Linked DNA regions of Homo sapiens. The protein of the gene in region 4 interacts with the protein of the main gene of each other region in a biochemical or structural test. Each region holds a gene or a part of one and is shown on either strand. Other genes may lie near its edges.

Evidence for each region.
Region 1: the proteins of CXCL14 (region 4) and SLAMF6 form a complex in vitro, tested with the Homo sapiens proteins (one large-scale study listed by BioGRID).
Region 2: the proteins of CXCL14 (region 4) and F2R form a complex in vitro, tested with the Homo sapiens proteins (one large-scale study listed by BioGRID).
Region 3: the proteins of CXCL14 (region 4) and CCL28 form a complex in vitro, tested with the Homo sapiens proteins (one large-scale study listed by BioGRID and IntAct).

Annotation. Positions count from the first base shown.
Region 1 is NC_000001.11:160,495,756-160,499,255, forward strand, and holds part of SLAMF6 (SLAM family member 6 isoform 1 precursor), read right to left. Parts: exon of another isoform or gene 821-3,500; intron 639-820; coding exon 306-638; intron 1-305. UniProt on the Homo sapiens protein: Self-ligand receptor of the signaling lymphocytic activation molecule (SLAM) family.
Region 2 is NC_000005.10:76,722,626-76,726,125, reverse strand, and holds part of F2R (proteinase-activated receptor 1 isoform 1 precursor), read right to left. Parts: intron 1-3,500. UniProt on the Homo sapiens protein: High affinity receptor that binds the activated thrombin, leading to calcium release from intracellular stores.
Region 3 is NC_000005.10:43,409,592-43,413,530, forward strand, and holds the start of CCL28 (C-C motif chemokine 28 isoform a precursor), read right to left. Parts: upstream 2,801-3,939; 5' UTR 2,726-2,800; coding exon 2,662-2,725; intron 1-2,661. UniProt on the Homo sapiens protein: Chemotactic activity for resting CD4, CD8 T-cells and eosinophils. Binds to CCR3 and CCR10 and induces calcium mobilization in a dose-dependent manner.
Region 4 is NC_000005.10:135,576,192-135,580,444, forward strand, and holds the start of CXCL14 (C-X-C motif chemokine 14 precursor), read right to left. Parts: upstream 2,801-4,253; 5' UTR 2,588-2,800; coding exon 2,524-2,587; intron 2,349-2,523; coding exon 2,243-2,348; intron 1-2,242. UniProt on the Homo sapiens protein: Potent chemoattractant for neutrophils, and weaker for dendritic cells. Not chemotactic for T-cells, B-cells, monocytes, natural killer cells or granulocytes. Does not inhibit proliferation of myeloid progenitors in colony formation assays.

The DNA.
Region 1 (3,500 bases), on a different chromosome or scaffold from region 4:
TACATGTAGTGCACAAGGCAACACTATCATAAATATTTGACTTCCATTACTTCTGCTACATTTCTGGTTGAAGAAGACCATTTTATCGGAGTGAAGTAATTCTGGGCTGGGACACAAGACTTAGGCTCTGTCTTCAGCTCTGTCATTAACTGGCTTTGCAGTGTCATTGTGTTGACACTGACTCAATGACTCCAAATGCCATATTCTTTACCACTAGGCGACAGTGCACATTTGAAGTCACATAGGATTGGAATACATGTATATTTTTCAGTCCATATGGAATTAAACCCCATATTTTGACTTACTTAATATCCTCAGAGTGTAACTGGACAGCTTTGCAGAGGTCTTTGTGGATATCTGGGCTCTGTAAGAGCCTGTGTCTTCCATCTTCAGGTTGCTGAGTTGCAGGGAGTAGGACTGGGTGAAGTTCAGTCGCTTTCCCTGTTTCGGATTAGTCACGTGGATTTCTGGACTTTTGGTTTCATGGGGTACTATGAAGGCAAGAGATGTTTCATTGAAAAGCCAAGTGATGAAGTTGACCTTCTCTCCTGCAGGAAACTCCAGGGGAAGAGTTACTGACTCCCCCAGAATCCCGTTCACCATCAATGGGGTTAAGCTGCTTTGTGAAACTACATTCCCTGTAAACACAGAAGGAAAGGTTTTAAAAATGTTCCTGACCATCTCCCTGCCAAGTCCTGCACCCTTTCACCTAACGCTGCCAGTCTGTTAGAGCTCTCTGATACCAAAACTCAGAGATATGACAGAGTAGGAAAGGGTAGGAGATGTTTCTAAATGAATAATCACAGTCCCAGAGCTTCACCTCCAGCAAAATGTCAGCCACTCTTGGTTAGTAGGCAGCTAGTCTAGATGAAACCGGCCCAGTCCACGCTGGGTCCTACACTGGCTGGTCACTCCTAGGTCATAACTATACTTTGTGATCCTAGCCTCTGAAGTCCTTGGACATTAGGTTGAGGGGGACAGGAAACTATAGACTCCAAAAACTGCAAGTCTTTGCTAATAAAGCATAATTAAAGCCTGATATTTACTGATTACTTACTGTGTGTCCAACATAGTAGGCTTGTGCAACTTAGAAGGCTGGTAACAGGGACTAATATCAGGGATTTATAGGATAGTCAGTTCTTCTTATATATTATTTCATTGACGCTGACTACAGTCTGTGAGGCAGGCAGGATGGATATTATTACTTCCATTTATAGATAAAGGAACTGAGCTACAGAAAAGTTAACTAATTTTCCCAGGGTTGCACAGCTAAAGAATAGCAGAGTCAGGATTCAAACCCAGGTCTTCTGACTCCAGTGACTTTGTGCTGTCTTCATGATACCAGAAGATTTTTTTTTAATTCTCTCAGAAAGATTATAGTTTAGTTATTGAGGAGACAAAATGGATACATATAGAAATAATAAATATAATTTCAAAGTAACACATGATGGCCACATTCTTGTGAACTTATTCAGAACTATCAATGTTTAAGCAAAAACGGTGAAATGGTCACAATGATTCTTAAAGAAGATGCTTCCTTAGCATCCTTTCCCAAATTCTTAGCAATTATTACACTATTTTGTAGTTTTGTTCACCTGTTTGTCTAACTGACCACGCCTTAATTAGCCTTGCATGTCAGTACTCAGCACCATGTCTGACACATAGTAGAGTCTGTGGAAATGTTCTAGTGGGTCAATGAATGAATAACTATAACAATTACCTCAACCTTCTCAGGATCTCTTGCTTCTTTTTCTTAAAAATTTCAACTTTTATTTTAGATATGGGGGTACATGTGCAGATTTGTTACATGGGTATATCACACCCAGATAGTGGACATAATAACTAATAGGTAGTTATTCAACCCATTACCTGTTCCCTTCCTTCCCCCTCTAGTAGTCCACAGCGTCTATTAATCCCATATTTATGTCCATGTGTGCTCAGTGTTTAGCTCCCACTTATAAGTGAGAGCATGTAGTATTTGGTTTTCTGTTCCTGTGTTGGTGTGCTAGGATTATGGCCTCCAGCTCCACCCGTGTTACTGCAAAAGACATGATTTAATTCTTTTTTATGGCTGGTTAGTATTCCATGGTGTATATATACCAAATTTTCTTTATCCAATCCATCATTGATTGGAACCTAGGTTGATTCTGTGTCTTTGCTATTATGAATAGCATAGTATGAACATACAAGTGCATGTGTCTTTTTGGTATAATGATCTATTTTCCTTTGGCTATATACCCAGTAATGGGATTGCTGGGTTGAATGGTAGCTCAGTTTTAAGTTTTTTGAAAAATCTCCAAACTGCTTTCCACAGTGAAAATTTATATTTCCCAATAACAGTGTATAACTGTTTCCTTTTCTCTGCAACCTCACCAAGTGGGACCTAGCACCTGTTTTTTTTTTATTTTTTGACTTTTAATAATAGACATTCTGAAAGAATGAAGGGTCCAGTTTCAATCTTCTGCATATGGCTATACAAAAATACAAAAAAGTGTATTAGTGTATTCTGAATTTTCTGTTCTCTTCCAGCTGTCATTCTGACAGAATGGCTATTATTAAAAAGTCAAAAAAGTGTTATTTGTCCATTTTCACACTGCTGATAAAGACATACTCAAGACTAGTAATTTATAAAGGAAAGATGTTTAATTGACTCACAGTTCCCCATGGCTGGGGAGGCCATGGCACTCACAAGCATGGTGGAAGGTGAAGGAGGAGCAAAGTCACGTCTTACATGGTGGCAGGCAAAGAGAACATGTGCAGGGGAACTCCCCTTTATAAAACCATCAGAACTCATGAGACTTATTCACTATCATGAGAATAGCACAGGAAAGACCTACCCCCAGATTCAATTACCTCCTACCAGGTCCCTCCCATGACATGTGGGAATAATGGGAGCTCTACAGTTCAAGATGAGATTTGGGTGGGGACACAATCAAACCATATCAAAAACCAAACCAGCATCTATTGTGTTCTTTTTTTTGACTTTTTAATAATAGCCATTCTGACTGGTGTGAGATGGTATTTCATTGTGGTTTTGATTTGGATTTCTCTGATGATTACTGATGCTGAGCATTTTTTCATGTTTGCTGAGTGCTTGTATATCTTCATTTAAGAAGTGCCTGTTCATGTCCTTTGCCCATTTTTTAATGGGGTTATTCGTCTTTTTGCTTATTGGTTTAAGCTCCTTATAGATTCTGGATATTAGACCTTATGTTGGGTACATAGTTTGCAAATATTTTCTCTCATTCTGTAAGATGTCTGTTTACGGTAATGATAGTTTCTTTTGCTGTGCAGAAGCTCTATAGTTTACTTAGGTTCCACTTGTCAATTTTCGTTTTTGTTGCAATTGCTTTTGGGGACCTAGCCAAAAATTCTTTGCCAAGGCCAGTGTCAAGAAGGGTATTTCCTATTTTTTTCTAGGATTTTTATAGCTTGAGGTTTTACATTTAAATATTTGATCCATCTTGAGTTAATTTTCGTATATGGTTAAAGGTAAGGGT
Region 2 (3,500 bases), about 59 Mb from region 4:
AAGCCACTGCACCTGGCCAAGGAACCTTAAAATAATGCAATTCTCCTCTGCAGTTTTGGAAGCCTGGCCAGATTATGGGCTTTTGTGATGCACAGAGGGGAAAAAGTGGACATGAACATGCATACTTACATACATGAATCAAGATGACACCTGAGAGACTGACACAATGTGAAAACTAATAAATACAACTAAGCTCTTCAGATACTATCACTTAGTCTGAAAATAAAACTGTCACTAGACTTTACTCTGTATTTAGTACTTAGGCAGTAAGTACTTGTTTTAAAAAACATCTTCTCTGGGTAGGCCTCAGGCAGACGGTACTTCCGACAGGAACATTATACTTGTGGAAACATGAAATTTTTATAGGCTAGAGCTCAGGAAGAATGTATAATCCCTTGGTTAAATATCGCTGCCTAAGGTGTTACCTTTTCTTGATACTATGGGTTTGATATTCTGGTTTTTGTGAAATTAAAGAATGTCGGAAAAAAAAAGAAAAGAAAAAATGTAGTATATACCAGCATCAAAGAAAGGACAAAACCAATGCAAGGTGACTAGACAATTCCAACTAGCTCAAGACCCTTAGGCTGAAATTTGAGTTTAAGTATCTCGCTTTTCCTCCAGTCCTAGCACAACTCAGGTCAAGGAGAAAGTGCTTGTGAAGGTGCCCAAATCTCTTATCATTCATCTCTGTTTTTTTTTTTGGTTAAGCTATGGTTTCACAAAAAAGGCAGCAGAGGTCCTGAATTCAGTTCTCATACGATTTGCTAAGTTTCACTTAATTTAGGCTCTTCTAAATTGCTCTAGAGTAGTTTTGTTATCGAATACAGCAAATTATTAAATAGTTTAAATACGGACTCTTTAACTGTGGCGATTTTTAAAAATTAGTGAGTTAGGCAACACGTTTTCTGACTGTGATGAGATCTGTCCTGGAAGCAGAGGGGTGACTAGAGGATCTCTGAATGTCGCATTTGATCCTGGGATTTATACCACACCAGCATTCCATGACACACATGGTTTTGACTCACAGTTCTGCCCTTCGGGGCTCATGCTTTTTCAGAGTTAACAAAGCAGAAGTCCCAGGACTTTGCTCACATTCCCACACAGAGCACAAGAGTTGAAACAACACTACAGGCTAAAGAGAAATGAAGAGGAGGACAGGAAAATAACAGAATCACACTAACTCTGTCAAGTGGAAAACACCAGCATTACTGGAATGTTTTACTCCCTCAGATTCAAACAAACACCATTTTCCAATGAAAAGAACTGGGGCTTCTTAAAGAAATGACTAGTTCCAGATCTGGGGTAGGAAATACACAAGATGAACATTGAACATCTTCAAAGAATATCAGGGTTAGGTCAAAAAGACGCTGGAGTCAATCTCAAAGGGCTCCCACTGACCAAAGATGTGACATGTTGATCACCAATTTGACCATCAAAAGAATAATGATGGAAATGAATTGAAACATTTCATACATGTTAAGATCCATGAGTTGAAGACGCAGTCAGCCAGATCCAGTATGTAGAAAAGACAGATGGCTTAGTTTCTTTGACAAATAAGAACTAAGACAGATGGCTTAGTTTCTTTGACAAATAAATAGCAATAAAAAAGGGGTGGGGGGGCAGTTACAGATTAAAATGTAATGGTGGACCTTGTTTGAACCTGATTCAAACAAACCAACTGTTAAAAGGTATTTATGAGACAATAAGGTAAATATGAACACTGACTGATTATCAGATGATATTAAGGAATTGTTAGGCCGGGCACGGTGGCTCACGCCTGTAATGCCAGCACTTCGGGAAGCCGAGGCAGGAGGACTGATTGAACCCAGGAGTTCCAGACCAGCCTGGGCAATGCAGCAAAATCCTATGTCTATTAAAATAAATACAAAAATTAGCTGGTCGTGGTGGTGTGTGCCTGTAGTCCCAGCTACTTTGGAGTCTGAGGCAGGAGGATTGCTTGAGCCCAGGAGGTTGAGACTGTGGATGAGCCATGATTGTGCTACTGAACTCCAGCCTTAGCAACAGAGTAAGAATGTGTCTCAAAACAAACAAACAAACAAAAAAACAGAAGGAAATGTTCATTTTTTAGGTATTATAATTGTATTGTGGTTATGTGGAAAAAAGAGTTCTAATCTCTAAGGATGCTTACTGATGTTTTTATGAATGACATAATATGATATCTGGGATTTGCTTTAAAATTATACAGTTGGGAGAGGAGGAAACTTGAGGGTTTAGATAAAACAAGATTGGTGACATGTAAATAATGTTGAAGCTGGATGATGGGTATGGGGAGTAACTATACTGTTCATTTTTGGGTATGTTTGAAAAATCCCATAATAAAAGTTAAAAAAACAAACAAATACTGTATGCATGTTTATTTGCCACTAGAAGTTAAGGGCAAGGGTTTTTGCTTTTTTCTTTTGTCCTAGTTCTGAAGGGGAAAATGTTCTTGCATGCTTGTGTGAAGATTGTCTTATATTTAGATAATTTATTTGGTATCAACTCTTCAAAAGCTTTTCTGGAATATGGAAGCATTGGTGTATGAAAAAACCTTACCATCTTTTTGAGCACCTACTATGTGCCAGATACTTCACTTGCCTTAGTTCATATAATTCTAACATTTCTATGACATGAGCATTATAACTACCATTTTATAAATGACAACATGGAGGCACAGAGAGGCTAAGTAACTAATCCAAAGTCACACAGCTATGAAGTAGAGGAGCCAGGGTTTGAACCTAGGTCTGCCCAGCTCCAAAGGTCATACCTTTTGACCACTCCACGCTATTCTCTCCTTAAAAACTTGTGATTCATGACCTACTTCTAAAAGAGTACCATCTTTTTCTCTTTGCATGTCACCAAACAAATGAATCTGCCCATCCTTTTAGCTACAGTAGGCAGTATGTGGACATGTGAATGGCTAGCTTAACGTGATGATGCCCAAAGCTTGGGAATTCTGGAGTCCTACTGACTTTGGCTGCACACCAACCACACATGCCAACAACTTGGTCCTTACACACAGGAGAGAGATAGCAGGGAGATATTCAAGGACAAAACAGAAAAATACATCTTTAAAACACTGTTCTAGATGGAGCAGATGCAAGAGCAGTAAGTGAACAAAAATCTCTGCTACAGAAAAAGCAGAATTAAAGACAAAATTCTTTTTTTTTTTTTTGATACAGAGTCTCACTCTGTCTCCCAGGCTGGAGTGCAGTGGCACGATCTTGGCTTGCTGCAACCTCTGCCTCCTGGGTTCAAGAGATTCTCCTGCCTCAGCCTCCTGAGTAGCTGGGATGACAGTTGTGCACCACCATGCCCGGCTAATTTTTGTATTTTTAGTAGAGACAGGGTTTCACCATGTTGGCCAAGCTGGTCTCCAACTCCTGACCTTAAGTGATCTGCGCCTCAGCCTCCCAAAGTGCTGGGATTACAGGCATGAGCCACCGTGCCCAACCTAAAGGTAGAATTCTTGACTGACTGGGGTTCAGAAGAAGCTGCCA
Region 3 (3,939 bases), about 92 Mb from region 4:
TTAAAACAAAAGGTAAACGTTTTAGGATGCAAGCAGCAAATCTCTAGCAAGTATTGGTGTGATTCAGTAGCCATTGTACTCTGAGAAAGAAGGTTGTCAGTGGGAAGGCAATTTGGGACTCACTGCAGCAAAACCTCCTAACTTGAATCTGCTGGGCACAAGTGAGCCTTAATCTTAATGTACAATAAAACAGCCAGGCCCACAAAGTCCTAGATTGTGGGTTTAAATAATCAGGCTCAGGGCCACCGAAACAGGATGATAGACATGTTTATGGATTCAGTATTGAGTTCTGGGAGCCAGCAGCCACGTCAGCAGAGGTGGAGTGTGCCCTACCTTTGGGCAGAATCCAAGGCTTTTAATTATAGATAAAGTCACCTGCTTCCTGATTTATGCAAAACACTTAGGGAATGCCAGTTATTGAGCCATCACAACAAGATAGCCATTTAAGACACCATTAAGATAAGGGAACAGCTTTCTGCCTCAAGGAAACAAAATATATTTCCCAAAGTTCCAAACTGGCACAGGCCTTTTTCCTATTCCCCTTGCCAAGGCCACCTGTCCTCTTCTCTGCACTGTTGAGTTGTTGAGTGTTCTCTACCTTCCTCCCTCCCCACTTGGTTTTCCACCCCCTCCCTGGAGCCAGAATCACTTAAGTGCCTCCCACAGGGCACCTGGCTTACATGGACACTTGAGTGGAAGTTTGTTAAGAATAGCTGTGGCGTTGCCCCTCTATTCCACGACTGTTCTCAGGCCTACTTGTGTATTTTTACCCAGTATCACTTATTTTTAAATGACAGAAGTTTGGAGCTTCTCAGGCAATGTGATTTTCCTGTGGCCTAAACTGCCTTAGGTAAAGCATCGAGACTAACCCAAAAGGCTATTGCTGGGTCTCTCGGCTCCCTTCCTTATTATCACCAGCAGCCGTACCTTTTCACACACCTCTGCATTTTGCCGTTCCACCCCACCGTCTCTACCAGGACTCAGTCCCATGTGAAGGTGGGTCCTGGGTATGGCAGAGCCTTCCTCATTACCCTCTGCCTCCTCGACCTGCTGTTCCCTCCCTCCTTTCCTGTAGGAGAGCTGCCGCTGTGGGGACAGGTGGGAGTAGGTCAGGAAGCTGGATGGAGGTACACATTTCAAAGTTTTATGTAAAAAATTTGAGTTGGTGGAATTACCAGAACTAGGAGTGAAGCCTTAGCAGGTAGGCCTTTCAGAAATAGTGAAAATGAGTCCCCAAATCTCAATGGTGAATTTTTCTGAGAAATGTTACAGAAACATAAAGTGACAAATTTTTGTCTTTATATTGATAAGATAGATAGATTAGTAGAAATTGAGAAGAGATTGTCCAGGTTTTTTCTGTTGCTTATTTGTATAAGCCCAGTACATTGACGGACTATATTGGGAGTCCCTAAGCAAATGCCTGCAGGGACCAGGCAGTTAATACAGCAAACTTCAGAGGCTCATCTGCTTTAGCCAGTTCTTGCCATGGTATGGTGGAATCATTGTTGCCACATCTGATTTCTCAAGAGAAGCTTTAAAATCCAATTTGTATGTGTGTATGTATGAGTATGTACATGAGAAAGCTTTCAGTTTTAAAATGTTGGCTCAGATTTTTAAAAAGCAGACCAAAGACTTATATTCCACCTCTGCTCTAGACTTAGAGAATCTGTTCAGGATAAAGCTTAAAGAAAAGATGACAATGGAAAAGAGTCATTGGTCAAGTATTAAGTACTGACACTTAGGGTTTCCTGAATATAGTAGTGAGTGCTACTTTAGAAGAGATTCCCTCTAGTTCAAATGCAGTTACAATCTCCAAATACATGCTAGCAACTCACGATTTAAATTCTCTTTGACATAATTTGTATGGTTCAATCTCCCTCATCCTGCTTTTCTTCTTTTTCTTTCTTTCCTTTCCTTTCTTCCTTTCCTTCTCTTTCCCCTCCCCTCCCCTCTTTTTGTTTTTAACAGATGGGGTTTTACTATGTTGCCCAAGCTGGAGTGCAGTGGCAATTCAGAGTGCAGTGGCAATTCACAGTGTGATCATAGCTCACTGCAATCTTGAATTCCTGGCCTGAAGCTATCCTCCAGCCGTAGCCTCCCAAGTAGGTGGGAATACAGGCATGCACCACTGTGCTCAGCTCTGCCCTCCCTTTTTAAAGGTCAGACTGAAGTTTCAGTTTTCTGTATCCATAGAGCTGACTTTGCTCAGGAAATTTACAACTTACCTAATTTGAACGCAGCTGGCCAAGTCTGTATTTCCCTCCAGGAATGTGCACAGTTGTGTTCAGACCGTTTAGCAGGTTGGGGTGTGGAGGAAGACAGATGAATAGTAGGGGCTTTACTCCAGCCTCTAGCTGGGGATTTTCTAAGATACTGTCTTCAGAAAAGGAAACATAGCTCGAAGTTGTACCTACATGGAAGGACCTCATCCTCCAGGTGGCAAAAATTTGTAGTATGCCTGTTAGAATGAGGTTCCTTCCTGAAACTTCTGGGAGATCTAGAATTTAAAGCTATGTCATTCTCTTGTAGGTAATCAGAAATCAATTGGAAATTCCTGCTTGAAGAGATAGATATTCTTGCCCCACCTCAATCCTTCCAGCACAGATTTGGGAGATACCCCCCTTTCCAGTGAAGGCCTAAGTGTCCAGTGCCCCCACTCACCTTCTGAGGCATGTAGGGCCGCACAGACAGCCAAGGCCACGATGGCGAGTCCTCTCTGCTGCATTCCTGCCTGCCCTACTGGCACTGACAGCAACACAAGTGAGGCTGTTCGATCAGGAAATGAGGCTAAAGGTGTCCTTGGGCACAGAGAAAGTGCAGAGGAAAAGTAAGCCAGGTGGCCCCGCCCTGGGAGGTGTTCAGGGTATCTATTTCTCATGTTTCTTTCCTTAAGACCAGGCTCCTCCTCGACTTATTAAGCTCCTAACTTGTGTTCATCCTGCCTGGGGGTCAGGGGATGTCAATGGAGATCTGGCAGCTGGCAGGGTCACTGTGAGGTGGGGTGTGCATCAGAATCATTTGGGGAACATTAAAAAAAATCAATCTAAATGACTCTCCCCTTTCCCTGATTTGTAAACCAGAACTCCCAGGTAGGAGACCAGTCATTTGAATTTTGTAAAAGCTCTATAGGTGATTCTGATGGACACTTATGTTGAGACCCATTGCATAATCAGTTTTTAAGTAGCTTATGGAAACCATGAGTTTCTGGGGACAAGGGTGACAAGTCATAAAAAATGTATCTTTGTGGAAAGATATGGAAGTATTAAACCCCACTTTAGTCTTGGTTCACAGCCAAATTGTTTCCAGTGAAGCTTTTTACAATAGCTTATTTAGGAGAAAGACAGGAAGGGGGGCAATGCCTTGTAGAAAAGAGCCCAAGAGCAGGTGTGAAGAGGCATGAGCGCTAGTGCAGCTTTGCTGCCAATCAGCTTTGTGAATAAAAGCATGGGGTAGCATGAAGATAATTGGATTCTAATTGTTCCTCATCTACTAATAAGTTGTATAACCTCAGGCAACGTACTTAACTTTGCTGTAAATAACAAGTCAGACTAGATGACCTCCAAAGTCATGCCATGCTTCCTCTAGAACTGTGTTGTCCTATGTGGTAGCCGCTAGCCCACATGTGGCTCTTGAGCACTTGAAATATGAGTAGTCCAAACTCAGATGTACTATGGGTATAAAATTCACACTGGATTTCAAAGACTGGGTACAGAAAAAAATATAAAATATCTTGTTAATAATGTTTATACTGTTTATTGATTACATGATAGTATTTTGGACTTTTTGGGTTAAATAAAATATATTATTAAAATTAATTTCACCCATTTCTTTTTATGTTTTCAAATTACTGCTGTGGTTTGAATATTTTTTTCTTCTCCAAAGCTCATGTTGAAAATTAATCCCTAATAGTGCTGGGAGATAGGGCCTAATGGACAATGT
Region 4 (4,253 bases):
CTCCTCTGTGACTCCGGGTCATTCCTCTAGCCTTGAGCACAGGCCAGGCTTCAGAGTGAACTCTGGTTGTCTCTCTCCCCCACTGTGCCCAGTCACCCTGCAGGAATTTAGCAAATGCTTTTCTCTTTCTGCCTACAAGGCTGCTTTAGCATTCTGAAGGAAAGGACGTGGTAATGCCTGATAAAAACCCTTTCTCAGTTAGGTCAGTGTGCAGGCTGTGCATCCCAAATCCTGAAGGTCAGGGAGAGCAGGAAGGGAGAGCAGGAAGGGTCACTCAGCCCTCTCACTACAGTGCTCAAATGCCACGTCATAATACTGGGATTATGAAAATCGGTTGTGGAGTGCAGACATAGGGATTTGTGACTCCAGCAACTATCAGAAATTCTGAGTCCTGTGACCCTCTCCTCCACAGTTCTGGCGGTGGGGGTAAGGGTTTTGGTGAGAGCTCCATGGACCTATGACACAAATTGCTCTTTCTAGAATTCGGACTCTCCTGGATCCTTCTGGGTGCAAGGACTCCCACTTGCAAAGCGGACCTCTCCCCCCGCCCCTACTCCTGCCCCCACCCCCAGCCTCAGCAGAGATTTCTGGGTGACTCAGGGTAAGCTGGAAAATTTGCTTTTGTTCAGCCTTTGTGGCTGAAAACCTGCTTTGCAAAAGTGCTGGCCCCTCATCTGATTTGGAGAGTTTTAGGATTGTGGAGGGGGAGAGGAGCCCCCAGCCCTCAGGGATGGAGTGGGAGGCCCTAGGGGGTGGGTTAGAGGTTTAGTAGAGGGTGATTGGATTGTGTGCTGATCTCCTGAGGCCCCTGCACGTTTCTACAAGGCTCCGTAAAGCCTTTCTCACACTTGCCTAGCTATAGTTTTTCTCTATATGTGGAAAAGTTTAGCCAGGAAAAGAGCAAGCCTATTTACTGAGGGCTCTGTCCTTTTTAGGTATCACTGCATCCTTTACCCTGCTTTCTTCCCCTGCAAGGTCTCAGAAACTTGTTTGGTTAATAGAGTGGTTTTCAGCTCTTAGACGAGTGAGATTTAACTTGGAATTCCCCTGTCATTCTTAGCCCCCAAACTGGAAGCCCTGAGGAGCTTGGAGCTCCTTTCCCAGCTCATTTGACACTTGGCCCCCACCCAAAAGGATTTTTGGGTATTTTCTTTGAATTTGGTCTGCAAGGCAAGGGGTAGGGACAAGCAAGTTAATTTAGGTGTCTGTGAAGGAAGGCAGTGGGGTCAGCTCAGTTCCAGTGGATTTCTGAATTCCCCTAATTTCAGCCTGACAGTGTAGCCCCTAGACGGGGATGGGGGGTGCTGGGTAGGGGTGTGCACTGCTTTCGCAGACACTGTGAAGGCCTTTGCGCCGGTGGGGGCCAGCTGGTGGAGGGCACTTGCCCAGACTGAGAATAAAGTGCGTCCTGTTTCTGGGGGAGGGGAAGAGGGGCCAATGGTCTGTGGCAAATATTTGGTAGCCGCTTTGCCAAGGGCTCCCTTCCTGGCCAAGAGCATATTGATGAGGAGGCAGCGGTGCTGGCCTCAAGTGGTTAATTGGGAAGGCGGAGGAGCAAGAAACTAAGTGTTCTCTCACTCTGCCCCAGTTTTTCCAACATTCCCCACATCCCCACCAAGCAGGGCTCCAGCCATGTGGCACATTAACCCCAGCAGAGCACTTTCTGCAGTACTGCTCCGTATTGGGGACCCACAAGGAGTACAGTCGGTGAGGGAAGCTCGTGGAGCGTTCTCAAAATAAAATCTCTAGGAGCCAAAAACTTGCGGTCCACTTGTCTCTGACTGGAACAAGGCTCTGAAGGAGACTCAGGATTTAAGATAGTGTTTGCATTAGTCCTCTATCCAGTGACAGGAAGGCAGCACGCCTCACAGTTTGGGTGTGAGTGTGTTTTAAGTGATTTCAGTCTAGGTTTTCTGAGTTGGCACAAGGGAACCCTTTAACCCTTGATGGCCCTAGCAGAGTGGGTGGCCCATGGTACAAATAGGGAGACTGCTCATTTGAATCCTAGCAAGGGTGAACTTGGAGGCGCTGTTCCGGAGCGGGACAGTGACCCCCCTTCCCGACTGTCTTCCAGAGTGTCTCGCCAGCGTCCTAAGGACTCTCTGGGCAATTACAAAGGCTTTTCCAGGGCCTTGACAAAGTCGGAGAGAAATGTTTGTTAGCCCGACCCAGGCCCAGGCTGTGCCCTGGCATTGGGTTGACAGCAGTGCGCACCCCCTCAAGGTGAGGAGCGAGAACTCACATAACCATCTTCTCCTCGCAGTGCGGGTACTTTGGCTTCATTTCCAGCTTCTTCACGTCGCTGTAGCGGATCTTGGGTCCCTTCCGGGAGCACTTGCATTTGGACCCTGCGAGCGAGCGCGGGGCAACGGCTTAGTTGCTAGGCGGTCTCCTGCCCCTCGACCACCTTGGTGCCCACCCAGACCACCCCCCGCGGGATCCCAGGATGCCTAGAAATTGGCGCTTGGGTTCCCCAGGACAGGACAAGACGAGACGGCGACAAGGGGAGCTCCCCGCACTCACCGTCCACACGCGCGGTGTACAGCGCCAGCAGCAGCAGGAGCAGCGCGGCCGCCAGGAGCCTCATGCTGACCGGAGGGGCGCGGCGTGGGAGCAGGGACATGGGGAGGGCGCTGGCCCGTCGGAGCGGCGGCCCGGAGACGCCACCCAGCTCTGCTCGGCTTTCTCTGCCCGGGGCGCGCCTTCCGGCTCTGCTGGCTCCGGCTGCGCCGTCGGTGGATGCCCAGGGCTGTCTGTGGCCGTGCGCTGCGCTCTGCGCTTGTCTCCGCGCTCTCTCCACAGCCTCCCTCCGCCCGCCCTGGCCTCTTTTAAATCCGCTCCTGCCCTCGCAGCGAGCGAGCTCATTAATATGCAGAACCACTCGGTGACTCACTGAGATTTCTCAATGTGGTGAGGGGAGGAGACCTTCCCAGCCCGCCCGTCGCCCGCCCCGGGAAAGGACCCGCTATCGCAGCGGCGCACACCCGGAGCCACGCGCGCACACGCACACACACATCCGCTACCCTCTCGCTCACACAACACGCCGCCTTCGCACACTTGCACACCCATACCACAGCGCGCACACATTTCCAGCGTCCCGCTCTGCCTTTGGGGAGCCCAGACGGTGGAGAGGCTGCTGAAGGGCACTGCTTTTCTGAATCGTGTGGTTCTCTCTCTGGCCCGGCAGGCCAGCTTTTCCGAGCCGGCGGGAGACCCAGGCCCAGGGCTCAGATCCTCAAAGACCTGAAAGGGTTTTGGAGCAGGTGCCAAGTGTGAGTGCCTGCAGGCCTGACCCCCAAGGGCCCCTGCTGGGCCAGAACACAAGGCCAGTTCTGGACAGGGGCTTGTCATAGACTGTCCAGCAGCAAAGTCATTGACTGTGATCACTGGAACTGACTCAAAGAGGGTATGTGTGTGTATGCGGGGGTGGGGACGGGTATTGGGGAGGAGTTTTGGTGACTCCCAAAGGAAAGCTCCTTAAAGTGGGTCAGTGGCCTGGTGGCTGTGTGAGTGTCTGGGTGGTGGGGAGAACCAGGAGGAGTCCTCACTCTCACACTACTCTCCAAAGCCAGGTAGAGAGCCCTAGTGGAGAGCGATGACAGTGGTAACCATCTGGATGAAGGCCTTCCCATGTTCTAGACATTGTGCCAGAATGCGAGGTATAGTGGTGTGAGCCCAGCCATAGTGGCAGAAATTCCCTCCTCACTACTTTCCAGCACAAGTGACTTTACCGCTCTCAGCTTTTGTTTCATCATCTGTAAAGTGCAGATCATCACAGTGTTTCTGATAGGGTGGCTGTGAGAACTATAGAAATCATACATGTTGTCAGTACCCAGGAAATGTTACTTATTGGCACCATCGTTTTATGTCTAATTTATCTATTACTTTGATTCTTACCAATTGGTACTTTTCTTCCAAGTTGGTACTTTTAATTTCTTTATTTGACAGGTGTGGAAACATGCTCTGAGAGAAGAAATAACTTGTCCAAGGTCACAGAGCTAGGAAGCAGGTGACTAGGCCAGGAGGGTCCTCAGTATATACGGCTGCAGAACTGGGACTCCTGTCCCTGGACCACTCTGTTGCTTTGAGGCCTGTCTGCCCTTCACTTCTTGCTGCCTTGAGAGACCCAGAGACAGGAGGTGGATCATCTCAAGCTCTTGGAGTCCCTGGGCTTGGCTGTCAGGAGAGAGCTCACCCAGCTCTATGCCATCAGCCTGGCAGTTCCCTGGAGGCAAAAATGCCCAGAGGGCTTC